2 separate regions of the Homo sapiens genome follow, and region 2 is linked to region 1. A link means that fine-mapping ties the variant in region 1 to the expression of a gene that starts in the linked region. Tissue or cell type: stomach. Region 1 holds a variant in brackets; the other region holds the start of a gene. All regions are shown on one strand. Distances are from middle to middle.

Region 1 (5,000 bases):
ATTTTCTCACTGGGTCCCTGGGACCAGCCTGGGGAGGGGCTGGTTGTGAATCACCATTTTACAGGTGAAAAAGTGGAAGGTCAAAATGAAGTAAGTTACTGCCAAGGGCTACAGACCAATGCAGGGCCTGTGTGCTCCCCAGCTCTGCACCATCTCCCTGAGAGCTGGGGGGAAATAAGGACGGCGCATTTGTTTCACAGCCCTCGACAAGCTGCCGCGACGGGCTCTTCCTGCTCCAGAGCGTCTGGGGAGGGCTGCAGGGTTAACCAGCTGGTGAGTGGGCCCGGTCCCTGCGAGGGAAGGACCCCTCGTGCCCCCTCCGCCCGCGCTCACATGACGATCTCCTTCCGGGTCGTCTCCAGGGACAGGTACTCCACCCAGCTCTTCTTGTCCTGGTAGTTCTTGGACTCATCCACGATCTTCTGAAACATCGCTCTCTTCCTGAACCCAGGGAACAAGGGAGGTGCAGGTGGGAGCAAGTGTGGAGACCCCGCCCCAAGCGCCCGTCTGCAGGGAGGCGCGGAGCCCGAGCGAGGCCCCATCCGGGGTGCGCGGGGCCGGCGGGCAGGGACGGAATCCGGGGCTGCGTCCCCCGGGCTGTGCCGCCGCTGCGCCCCCGTGTCTGCCGGGGGTCCCAGGCTACCCGCCCGCCCCGCGAGGCGCCCCCTCCCGGAAGGCGCGCACTTGAAGTACAGGGCCAGGTCCGTGGCGATGATGGCGATGTCCATCAGGTGGATCACGTGCTCGTGCTGCCGCCGGTTCAGGTTCTGGTAGATGTTCAGGGTCTGCGGAGGTTATGCCCAGCGCGTCAGGCGCCCTGCGGCCACCTCTCAGGGTGCCCGGGGACCCCGCCCCTTCCGCCTCGGCTGCCTGTGCCTCTCACGCCCCCGCCCTCGGGCCCTCGGTGGGCGGGACCCCTAATCCGCCTGCTGCTCAGGGCCCTCCTCAGGGTGCCCAGCTCTCCACCAGCGGCTCCATCGTCGGCTTGGGACGCAGATGGCCTCAGAGGTCACCACCGGGGAGCGCAGGGAGGGGTCCACTGAGTGTCCAGGTCCTTGGGGGCCGCTCAGGGCTCGGCTGCCCTTCATTCCCCCGCTGGTGGGTCCCGGGCCGCTTCCCCTTCGGCTTCCACCCCACCCCATGAGGGGCCCTTTCCAGTTGTCTTCCCCACAAGCGTTTTCCCAGGGCCTCCGATGCACCTGCCCTCAGCCTCGGCCCTCCGCCTTCTCTGCCGCCCTCCCCCAGTGCTCACACACCCAGTGCTCACCCGCTGCATCAGAACCCTGCTCCGCAGGATACGGCCCTGCCGTCCTGCGGACGCTGCGTCCCCAGCGCCCACAGCAGAAACCGAGGGTGAGTATACCAACCTCCTCCGAGAGCAGGAACTTCCCAAACTCCAGGTGGTGCCGCTCCAAAATCGAGGAGCCGTGGAGCTTAGCCAAGGGGTTCTGGGACCTGTTACACAGGTGGTGGAGGTGAGGCCCGTGGGACCTGCCCTTGGCCCACCCTGCGCTCTGCAGCCCCCCCAGATGGGCCCCACTTTCTTTTTTTTGAGACAGGGTCTGCCTCTGTCACCCACTCTGGAGTGCAGTGGTGCAATCATGGCTCAATACAGCCTTGACCTCCTGGGCTCAAGTGATCCTCCCACCTCAGCCTCCTAAGTAGCTGGGACCACAGGTGTGCGCCACCATACACAGCTTTTTTTTTTTTTTTTTTTTTTAAGTTTTTGTAGAGGAGAGCTCTTGCCATGTTGCCCAGGCTGGTCTCGAACTCCTGGGCTCAAGCAATCCCCTCGCCTTGGCCTCCCACAGTGCTGGAGTACGGGGCCTGGCCGTGGACTCCACTTTCTACATAGCCTGCTATGCGAAGCCTAATTCACGCCAAGGGCGTGGAGTTGATTTAGGGCTAATTCACATGCCCGCCCTGAGGTGCCTACTTCATCTGGTACAGGTTGTTGGTGCCGCGGTGGTCGATGTCATGGCACAGGCCGGCTGTCACCATGGCGAAGGCCTCCAGGTCCGTGTAGTAGCTCTTCAGTTTGCCGGTCTGTAGAGACAGGGCCACCTTGCTCACCGGTCCTGGCTCCAGCAGGGTGGGGAGTGGTGAGGGGTTGGGATGACCTAGGCGTCGGGTTGGAGGTTGGACCTCCGACCACCGCAGGGCTGGGGTGCGCGGTGCACGGTGTCAGAGGGCGTTGCCCTCCTCCATCCTTCTGCCCTGGGAGGACCCCCATCTCATCCCTCGGGGTGCTTGAGTGCTGCCCTTGGTACCAGGAGGGCCTGCACAACCCTGGTGATTCTGGCAGCCACGTACCATGAGCAGCGTGAACATCGTCTGGGCCACGTTGAAGCCGTGGCGCCAGTTGTGGTAGGTGATTCTCCGGTACCCTTTGCTGATGGAGAACAGGAACCGCACCAGGACCTGGGGGAGCCGAGAGGACACAGGGCTCCGGCGGCAAGCGT[G/C]TAAGTCCCGCCAGAGCGGCACCTGTGGCTGACTTCACAGTGGAAGCCCTGCTCCGTGCCATCATCCCCACACCGTCTCCTGGACTTCCCGATCTTCCCCATCCCTGCGTTTCCCACTGGCCTCTGCTGGCCTTCCTGGGTAGGGGCTGCCACATTGGCACCTATGGGGTGGAGCCAGGTAGGGCAGGAGCTGAGAACAGCCCCAGCCTTCAGGGGCCGCCCAGCCTCCATCCGACTGCCTGGCCTCAAGCTGGGAGGAGGACCCCTGGGGATGCAGCATATTTTAAGATGTTGGTTTTAGGCATGGACATTTGAATGAGCAGAATGTGTGGGCTGCAGGCTGGGGTGGGAGAACCGATGTCCGCAGGGCAAGAGAATGCTGGTCTCTCTTGCCCTGCGGACATCGCCAGGAGGCTCTTCCTGCGGCCATTGTGATTTTTAGGGTCAGAAAATTATTTGGAAATATTTTTTATTCTGCAAATATTTTCTATACATTTTTTCTTGAGTGTTTTCCCTTAGTATTTAGTAAAACTTCTTTTGAAAATGCTGGCCTGCTGCACCTGTTCTCAGAGGGGCATGAGAAAAGAGGATTCTCTTCCTAGGGCTGTGGGAAGCCCCTTGAGATGTTGGAAGCAGGGCAGGGCAGGAGAACCCAGGGAGGGCACAGAGCTGTGGACGAGGGCTGGGAAAGCCATCCCGCCTCCCCAGGGGGTCTCCGAGGAGTGCTGCTGTGGCCAAACCAGGGGGGCCACTTTGTGCTTTCTGTTTAGGTGATGGGATGCTTCTATCTCCTCAGCACCCCACACCAAATCCCCTGTTATTGCCAGATGATGTGCCTAATGATCAAATTGCTTGGAACTCCTAATAATAAAACTTTAAATCTATCCATTCACCATCCATCTGCTGTCCACCCATCCATTCACCCATTCATTGACCCATCTATTAATTCATTAATTGACCCACCTACTCATCTATCACTCATCCACCCACTTCTCCATCCATCCACCTATCCATTCACTTATCCAACCATCTAACTACCATTGGCCCACTCACCCATCCATCCATTTATCCAACCATCCAACTACCATTGGCCCACCCACCCATCCATTTATCCAACTATCCAACTACCATTGGCATCCACCCATCCATTCATTTATTCTTCCTTTGTTTCTTTCTGCTTGCCTGTTGGCCTTCCTTCCTTCCTAACCTCCCTCCTTCCTCCCTGCTTTTCACCCATCCAGCCATCCATCAATCCAGCCATCCACCCAGCCATCCAATTATTTGTTTTATGCTTACTTCCCGTGTGCATTTTACCTGTTCTGTGATGAACATGTCGGCCCTCTAAACTTCCTGTGGGATCTGGAACCCCCAATCCCATCCCCCTCACCTTCTGGGGCACCTGAGGCCCTGATCACATCCCCACCCCCATGTCCTGGGCGGCCTCAGGGACCTGACTATGCGCCCTGCGGTGTCTCCCACCTCCTGGGGGATCTGGAACTTTCGGACCACGCCCAGCTCGTAGTACATCTGGATGCCACATTTGACCAGGTCCAGTTCGGTGCACTCCAGGTCAGAGAAGTGGAATTCGTAGATGTCAAATGTGGTGGGCCCTGGCAGCTCCTCCTTCTGTGGGAGGGATTGTGGGCTGAGGGAGGTTGGCCTGCCACAGCCCCCACTTGCTTCTCATCCTTTCTTCTCTCCAGATCCCCTGCCAAGCCTCAGACACCTCAGGCATCTCTGAGGAGATGTGTCATTCCTGGCGCTCCAGCCTGTATCCCAGGCTGCTCACACGCCCCCCTGGCTCAGCCTCACTCTCCCCTCTTGTACCCTGTGGCCCAACAGTGAAGAACTTGCCCAGTTGGGTGGACAGGGTGATGTTGTTGAGACAAGAAAACACAAAGGTGTGCACATGAAAAGAAACACACACACACACGGATACAGACACACGTGACACAGGCACACCTGGATACACGGCCACTCCCATGAATACAAAGGCACCGGTGTGGACACACAGGCACACACATGAGCACCCAGGCACACCCACAGACATGCAGGCACACACGTGCAGACTCACGCATGTAGGCTCACACACACAGCCATGAGGTAACACACACAACAGTGGACTTTCAGACCCACCAGGCACATTCCCATGCTCAGTCCAAGGCCTACTCACAAGGCTCGTGGCCCCGGGAGATTCTGGCTAAATTGCATAGGCAGACACAGGGTGATGGGGACACCACATAATCCCCACATTGATCCAGCAATCGTCTCTAGGAGACACACACAAGCATGTGTCTATATATATCCATGTGCACACACATGCACACACAATACACACCCCCTGTGCACATGTGAGCACACACACATGGGTGCACACACGGGCACACACACACAAACGCCCATGTGCACACACATGCACACACATACTCGTGGGCACACATGTGCACACACATGTGTACACATGTGCACATTCATACAATGCACACACGCACACACATACCCACATGTGCACACACACACCCACATGTGCACACATGT
Region 2 (8,119 bases), 27 kb before region 1:
GGTTTCTGTTTTTACCCTGGAGCTGTGCCGGGCAGTCCTTCCCCCAGGGCTTCGGGGTGGGCAGACGGCTCCTGCCCTCACATTGCTGAGGTTCTCTGGGAGGAGCAGATAAAAACCACTCAGAGGAGCAGCAGGACAGGCAGGCCGTCTCAGCGCAGCAGGTGAGGTTTCCTCCCTGACAGGCTGGAAAAGGCGGCCTGCCTCCTCCTTCAGCCTTGGCAGAGCAACTGTTTCCAGTGGCTTGATTTTGAACAAGATACTGTTTAGGAAAGACACATTAGCCCGCAATTAACGAATGCTAGTCTGGGATGCTGACAGAAGTCTATGTTGGGTTAAAAGAAGAGAGATAACAGCATTGAAATGCAAATTTAGCCATAACTGTGTATGTTAAGGATTATTTAAATAAGCTTTTGAAGATCCTTTTCTTTTCTCTTTTTTTTTCTTTTGAGACGGCGTCTCGCTCTGTCGCCCAGGCTGGAGTGCAGTGGTGCCATCTCAGGTCACTGCAACCTCCACCTCCCTGGTTCAAGCGATTCTCCTGCCTCAGCCTTCCGAGTAGCTGGGACTACAGGCACCCAAGACCATGCCCAGCTAATTTTTTCTGTATTTTTAGTAGAGACGGGGTTTCACCATGTTGGCCAGGATGGTCTCGAACTCCTGACCTCAGGTAATTTGCCCGCCTTGGCCTCTCAAAGTGCTGGGATGACAGGCGTGAGCTACCAAACCTGACCAGAGATCCTTTTGGAAAGCAAGACGCTGGGTGCCTTTGTCTGGAGGTCACCATGTAAACGTACACAGGCAATTCTGGGCTTGGGGTGAGGATCCCAGGATGGTGCTGTACCCGGATCCAAAACTCGGGCAGCTTAGGTGAGTGTGCCGAAGGTGCTTGTGGAGAAATGTAAACAAAACTGTTTCATTAGATGCAAGAGTGGAAAAAGTCATTGTTTCCAAATAAGTGGACTTATACTATGCGATTTTTTAAAAAATTAAATTTTTTTTTTTTTTGAGACGGAGTCTCGCTCTGTTGCCCAGGCTGGAGTGCAGTGACGCAATCTCGGCTCACTGCAAGCTCTGCCTCCTGGGTTCACACCATTCTCCTGCCTCAGCCTCCCGAGTAGCTGGGACTACAGGTGCCCGCCGCCACGCCCGGCTAATTTTTGTATTTTTAGTAGAGACAGGGTTTCATCATTTTGGCCAGGCTGGTCTCAAACTCCTGACCTCAAGTGATCTGCCTGCCTTGGCCTCCCAAAGTGCTGGGATTACAGGCGTGAGCCACCGTGCCCAGCCCATTTAGAAAGTTTATTTTGCCAAGGTTAAGGACACACCTGTGACATAGCCTCAGGCAGTCCTGATGGCACGTGCTCAAGGTGGTTGGGGCACAGCTTGTTTTTTTTTCCTTGTTTTATTTTTGTTTTTTTTTTGTGACAGAGTCTCCCTCTGTTGCCCAGGTTGGAGTGCAGTGGCACGATCTTAGCTCACTGCAACCTCTGCCTCCCGGGTTTAATCAATTCCCACCTTATATAGCCTCCTGAGTAGCTGGGATTACAGGCATGCACCACCATGCCCAGCTAATCTGTTGCATTTTTAGTGAAGACGGTTTCACCATATTGGCCAGGCTGGTCTTGAACTCCCGACCTCAGGTAATCCACCCACCTCGGCCTCCCAAAGTGCTGGGATTATAGATGTGAGCTACCTCGCCCAGCCATGGTTTGTAATTTTTTTTTTTTTTTTTTGAGACAGAGTCTCACTCTGTTGCCCAGGCTGGAGTGCAGTGGCATGATCTCAGCTCACTGCAACCTCTGCTTCCCGGGTTCGAGATTCTCTTACCTCAGCCTCCCAAATAGCTGGGACTACAGGTGCATGTCACCACACCTGGCTAATTTTTGTATTTTTACTAGAGACTGGGTTTCACCATGTTGGCCAGGCTGGTCTTGAACTCCTGACCTTGTGATCCACCTGCCTTGGCCTCCCAAAGTGCTGGGATTACAGGCGTGAGCCACCGCACCCGGCCCATGGTTTGTAATTTTTAGCATGCAAGTTCTGTAGATGGTTTGCTAAGTTTATACCAAAGTATTTAATTTTCCTTGGAGTAATTATGAATGTCTTTAACTTTGGTTTTCATGTTTCTTGTTGGTATACATCAATGCAAGCGATTGTTGTGTGCTGATCTTGCATTCTGCAATGTTGCTGAGCTCACCTGCTCAACCCAAGAGTTCCGACATGTAGGGAGGAGGAGCCCCTCAACAATGCACGCTCAACAGAGACTGAACAATGGAGGTAGCTACAGTGGCTGCCCCGTTTCATGGTGACACCCCTCGACAATGCACGCTCAACAGAGACTGAACGATGGAGGTAGCTACTGTGGCTGCCCCATTTCATGGTGACAGGCTCAGACACCACCTGTCAGAGGCAGTGCTCCACAATAGTGAGGTCCCTCAACAGGGAAGCCTGCACTGCAACTCCCCCTCTGCCAGGTGGGGTTAGGGGATGTTGAAGGCCCTAGGCCAACATTGGCACTGGACTATGGAGGAAGGTTGTGAGGGGGCTGGGTCCTCAGGGCAGGGCGAGCAAGAGGTGAGGAGAAGGAGAACAGAAGGAACTGGTGGGGGAATGGGGAACAAAGATGAGGGGGGAGGCTAGACGGTGGGGAAGGCAGAGGAGATAAAGAGAGTGAGGACCACAGGGCTCCATCACACGTCTCAGAGAATGGAACCCCCTTGGGGCCCACCCATCTCAGGACACCCCGGGTGAGCTCCATTTTCTCTTTGTTACTGGATGAGACTCTACAAAAAAAAAAAAATCCCAAAGTGGAGAGCTCTATCTGAGACACACACACAATCCCTGCAGAAGACTGCACAGTGAAAGCTGGGGCCTCATCATTAGCCTGTTCAGACTCAGGTGTGGAAAATGGACAGGCCCTGGCAAAGGAGATGAATGTTTAAGACAAAAACCACGAATAATACTGTTCAGGAAACGGGGATGGTTTCAAGGGTCAAGAGAGCCTCCCTGTTTGGGGGAAATCCTGTTTGCACGTCTGACCAGGCCAGCCTCCACCCCACCCCTATACTGGCCTCAGCAACAGGGCCTGGAGCCTCTTGGGTTCCCCCAGGGTGGGCCAGGCACAGTTGTGGGATCAGCAGGTTCTTGCAGAAAAGACTAAGCCGAAACTCCCTCCTCTGCCTTCCAACACACAGGCCTCTCCATCCTAAACAAACAGAAACCTGTGCCTACTCCTCTGAGAGCCGTGTCCTCCATTGTAAAATGCAGGTAACAATCCGGTGCGTGTGTGGCGGACTGCCTACCCCAGGGTGGGGCCCACAGGCCTTTCTGGCCTTCCCTCCAGCCTTGGCCTGCAGCCCCTCGCCCTCCTACCCCATGCCTGCTTCCCGCAGGGGCTGTAGAGGGACTGGTCTGATTTGAGGCTCTGCGCAAAGCCAGCCCAGCCTCTTCTTCCAGGCTGGCCTCTGGCCCCTCCCTGTGGCTGGCTTGAACCTCAGGAACTTGGGGTCCACAGCCCCCTTCAGGAAGTGCAGAGCTTCTGCTGGGCAGAGTGACTTCCAGGCCGCCTTTCCTGCTGAGAAGCACACAGGCTGTGACCGGGGCCCTTCCCGGAAGGGACATTCGGTTTTTGTGGCAGGGACTTCCAGCCTGAGGCCGAAGGAGGAGGGTCCAACTTCACCTTTGCCCGCCCTTCCCCCGCTTTTTTGGGTCTCCTTTAACTGGGACGGGGCGGGACCCTCCTCCGTAGTCCTTGGGGCGGAACTGGCCCCCCGTGGCCCGGCCCGGCCCGGCCCCACCTCCGCCCGCAGGCGGTCCCGGCCCACGCGGGAAGGTCCTTAAGCCCGGGCGGCCGGCGGGACCGGCGGAGACCCGTGGAGGCCGCCGACGATGGCGGGGCCGACGGAGGCCGAGACGGGGTTGGCCGAGCCCCGGGCCCTGTGCGCGCAGCGGGGCCACCGCACCTACGCGCGCCGCTGGGTGTTCCTGCTCGCGATCAGCCTGCTCAACTGCTCCAACGCCACGGTAGGGGCAGGGGCGGGGACAGGTGGCTCCGGGACCCTCAGTCCCTCGGACCAGCCGGGTTTTGTTTTCCTGTGGCCACAGCCCGAGGTGCCAGGTGCTGGCTGGGGGCGGGGGGTGCCTTCTGGAGGTGGCTAGGGATTGCGGGCACTGGGGGCACTGTCTGTCCTGGAGGTGGCTGGGCCCAGGGCACAGAGCAGGGCTGGGTGCCCCGGGGGATCTGCCAGTCACGGAGTCCCAGCCCTTCCCAGCCTTCAGTGGCTCCAGCCTGGGTCCCTCTTCCCCAGCCAGTCACATACAGGTGGCCCTGCGTTGGCCCTCTCTCCTTCCACGCCTCCCAGCCCCAGGACAGCAGGCACACAGCAGAGGCGCGCTTGGAGCCGCCCTCCCCTCCACCTGACTCTGAGTGAGGGGCGGCTCCTGGGCTGGGCTGGGTTCCGTCCTGCCCCCACCCCCTTCAGGTGTTGCACGCTGCAGCCTTTCCCGCCCTGTGTGCCCTCATCAGCCATCCCCCGGAGCCTCAGGAACTGGTCAGGCAGTATCTGGCCAACGTGCAATGAACAGCTAGAGTTGGCAGCAGGACCCACAGCTCAGGGAGGCGCCAGGTCACGGGGATGGTCAGGAAGCTCGGGGGCAGGGGCAGGAGTCACTCTCAGGCCTGGGTCAGGGCTCTTCCAGGTGGACCCCGGGGCCTCTCCCCTCCTCCTTTGCTGGCTGGGTATGGAGGGCCAGCCTCTGGCCGAGACAGGCCCGGGATCTGCTGGATGGGCCCAGGGGCTGCCTGCTGCCCACAATGCTGGCACGAGCCGTAACTCACTGCTGTGGCTTGGCGTCCTGGCCCACCATGTCCAGGCACTGGGGAAGCCATAACTGGCTTTGGGTGGAGTGTCTGAGGGTGCAGGGCTGGTTTCATGGTCCAAGAGTCAGTGGGTGTCGTAGGTGTGGGGCGTTCCTTGGACAGTCAAGGGCCTCCTGCTGCAGTTCTTCACTGTTTTATTAATATCCACGAGTCATCATGGAGCACACAGAAATCTCACCCTGACACCAAGAGTCGTCATGGTCTCTGCCTGGGTCACCACAGTGAGCCGTAAGCACCATGTTCACTCCAGCCAAGTGCCCTTGAGGCTGGAGGTTACTCATCTGCAGCCAGTGACCAGGGATCCCGGGTTCCAACCAGCAGCATGAGGGCCAGGCGGAGCAGAGCTTGGGTCAACACCCACCCCGGAAGGCAGCCCAGTGCTCTGGATGAGACTCAAAGGACCCAAGGGGGCGAGCGCAGGCAGGGTCGAGGCTGGGAGATGAGGAAGGGAGTCAGACAGATCGTCCTCCCACGTTGCCCCGCACGCTTCAGACGCATCTCTTCTCAGTGAGTCAGCTGTGGGCCCCACTCAGGCCCCCGAGGAACCAGGACAGGGCTGAGGCTGGAGCGGCGGGCTCGGCTCCGCAGGGTGGGCTTTCTCTCCCGGGCTCGGCCAGGCAGGCACCAGCTGGGCCTGGGGAGCTCGTTCTGTGCCTGGCCCCGTCCTGCAGAAAAAGGAAGACAGGGCGGCTGTTGCCCAAGCTCCCTGTCCTGTCCCGTGGGCTGAGTCAGACCTTGTCCGGGCGGAGCCTGGGTCTGGCTGCTGTGTCCGAGGGTGTGGCCTGGAGCTCAGTCGACTCATGGAAGTTGACCTTGAGTGACACGGCCTCCTGCCTCCCGGAGTGAGCCCCGGTGACCCGCTCCACTTTGGCCTCCCTCAGGGATGAGCCAGTCTCACCTCTCCTAGGAGGCCTTCCCCTCGGCCGCAGCGTGCACTTGTGCTGTGTGCTGGACGTCCGTGGGGTGAAGAGCTCTAGTACTTGATAATGCCTGTGGCTGGGGAATGGTGCCCGCTCTGGCAACATTCTGCCCAAACACCTGGGCCCTGCAGGAGGGAAGGTCAGGCTGGCCTTGGGTGGGGCTGGCCTGCAGTCCCAGAGGTTCTAGCTGAGACCCCGTCACGCCCACCTTTCCCTGCCTTGGAGCGCCAGGTCTGGTCTGGGCAGGGCTCGTGGTCCTGTGGGCTCTGGCCAGGTCCTTGGCCTCAGTGTCTGCCCCCCAGGCTGGTCCCCGGTCAGGGCATGCTCTCTGACCCTGCGCTGGGTGCCCGCCCTCGGGGGAGGCAGGGTGGCGCTCTCCTTGGGCAGGAAGGCCCCGTGTCCAGCTCGCTGTGTCCCCTCGGCCTCACGGGGCTGCTGGCACTCTGACCCCCTCGGGCTGGCTGGGGCCACAGCAGGTAGGTCCGGGGTCTGTGGCCCTGCGCTGACTCCCGCCTGACCCCTGCAGCTGTGGCTCAGCTTTGCACCTGTGGCTGACGTCATTGCTGAGGACTTGGTCCTGTCCATGGAGCAGATCAACTGGCTGTCACTGGTCTACCTCGTGGTATCCACCCCATTTGGCGTGGCGGCCATCTGGATCCTGGACTCCGTCGGGCTCCGTGCGGCGGTGAGTCAGACCCCACACCATGGCCCGCTCCGGGACAGTGCAGGGGCCCCCGCATTTGGGTAGGAGAGTCAAGGCCTCCCCAGACCGGGGCCCACCAGTCCCAACAGCTGGGGACCCCGGCAGAGCCGTCGAGGTGGCGGCAGTGGGAGGTCCAGGTGCTCGGGGGACGGGGCAGGCACTTGGGCTGGTGGCAGCGTTCCTGACCCGGTCCCCGACCCCCTCCTCGCAGACCATCCTGGGTGCGTGGCTGAACTTTGCCGGGAGTGTGCTACGCATGGTGCCCTGCATGGTTGTTGGGACCCAAAACCCATTTGCCTTCCTCATGGGTGGCCAGAGCCTCTGTGCCCTTGCCCAGAGCCTGGTCATCTTCTCTCCAGCCAAGCTGGCTGCCTTGTGGTTCCCAGAGCACCAGCGAGCCACGGCCAACATGCTCGCCACCATGTGTGAGTTCCGGGGAGGGAGGCCGCCTGCCTGGGCTCACCTCAGGGTCCACACAGACGCTCGGCTCCCCAGGCTCTCTGGCCAGGGTGGAGGAGCTGGGGCCCGGAAGGTTCTGCCTGTGGGCTGGCGATGAAGCCAGGCCACAGCCGAGCTGACACTTTGTGCATCCGCCCACCCAGCGAACCCTCTGGGCGTCCTTGTGGCCAATGTGCTGTCCCCTGTGCTGGTCAAGAAGGGTGAGGACATTCCGTTAATGGTGAGGGGTCATGAGACGCCCGTGCCTGGTCTGTGTGGTGTGTGCGCATGCACGTCTGTGTGTTCCTGATCCCAAGTGTGTCCGTGTTCCTGTGCCCGTGTGTGATTCCCGTCCCCCGCCCCGCCACCCGAGAAGGAGTCTCAGCCTGTCGCTCAGGCTGAATTGCAGTGGCGCGATCTCGGCTCACTGCAACCTCCGCCTACTGGGTTTAAGCAATTCCCCTGCCTCATCTTCCCGAGTAGCTGGGACTACAGGCGTGCGCCACCATGCTTGGCTAATTTTTTTTTTTTTGTATTTTTGGTAGAGTTGGGGTTTCACCATGTTGGCCAGGCTGGTCTCGAACTCCTGACCTCATGATCCGTCTGCCTCGGCTTCCCAAAGTGCTAGGATGACAGGCGTGAGCCACCGCGCCCGGCCAGTGTGTGATGTTTCTATGCCTGCCTGTGTGTATTGAGTGTGTGTGGTGTGTGCGGTGCGTGTCTCTGTTCCTGTGCCCATGTGTATTGTGTGATGTGTGCATATGTGTCTGTGTGTCTGTGCACATGTGTGGTGTGTACCTGTGTGTGCTCGTGCATGTGTATCAGGTGCGGGTGGTGTGTTTGTGCTTGGGGGTATGTACTGAGCGTGAGTCTGTATGCACGTGTGCCTCTGCACCCACCTGTGTCTGTGTGTTGAGCCCTATCATGGGCTGTGCAGCTGGCAGTGAGATGTAAGTCTGGAGCCTGGGGGTGCTGGGCTAACATCAGCCAGGAGGGTGTCACTGGTGAGGGATGCGTTGACAGCCAGGGGTCCCCATGAGCCCCTGGAGCAGGCCCCTCCCAGCCTGGGCCTCGCAAAGGGCAGCTGCAGACCAGAGGTTGGGAGGCAGCCGGTGGTGGGGCAGGAGGAGCTGGGAGGTGGCGCCTGGGACAGGCAGGGCTGCGGCGTGTGTGGGTGCC

Which allele goes with the higher level. Alleles are on the strand shown, and positions count from the first base shown. SD is a standard deviation of normalised expression in the study named.
For the expression in stomach of the gene that starts at base 3,865 in region 2, allele C in region 1 goes with a higher level than allele G (small effect, 0.31 SD a copy in GTEx).

What was found. PIP is the estimated chance that this variant, and not a neighbour inherited with it, causes the effect.
Region 2: SLC49A3 starts here. The variant in region 1 is fine-mapped to the expression of SLC49A3 in stomach (GTEx, PIP above 0.99).

What each region holds. Positions count from the first base shown.
Region 1 is chr4:659,555-664,554 of GRCh38, reverse strand. PDE6B (phosphodiesterase 6B) reads right to left here. Exons shown (of 22, transcript NM_000283.4): 12 at 3,942-4,088; 13 at 2,314-2,421; 14 at 1,937-2,046; 15 at 1,368-1,455; 16 at 685-785; 17 at 334-441. Among named protein-coding and RNA genes, the nearest start is that of PDE6B-AS1, 6.9 kb to the right of the region's middle. RefSeq lists a silencer at 526-995 and an enhancer at 590-1,182. The variant G/C (reference allele first, on the strand shown) is at 2,463.
Region 2 is chr4:684,897-693,015 of GRCh38, reverse strand. SLC49A3 (solute carrier family 49 member 3) reads left to right here and starts at 3,865. Exons shown (of 10, transcript NM_032219.4): 1 at 3,865-4,023; 2 at 6,326-6,484; 3 at 6,714-6,927; 4 at 7,105-7,181. The coding sequence starts at 3,889. It overlaps LOC124900643 (a long non-coding RNA gene), which reads right to left and starts at 6,331. Exons shown (of 2, transcript XR_007057985.1): 1 at 5,778-6,331; 2 at 4,997-5,544. RefSeq lists enhancers at 1-469, 2,829-2,878, 2,654-3,601, 3,602-4,550, 5,499-6,447 and 1 more and silencers at 3,819-3,878, 3,909-4,078.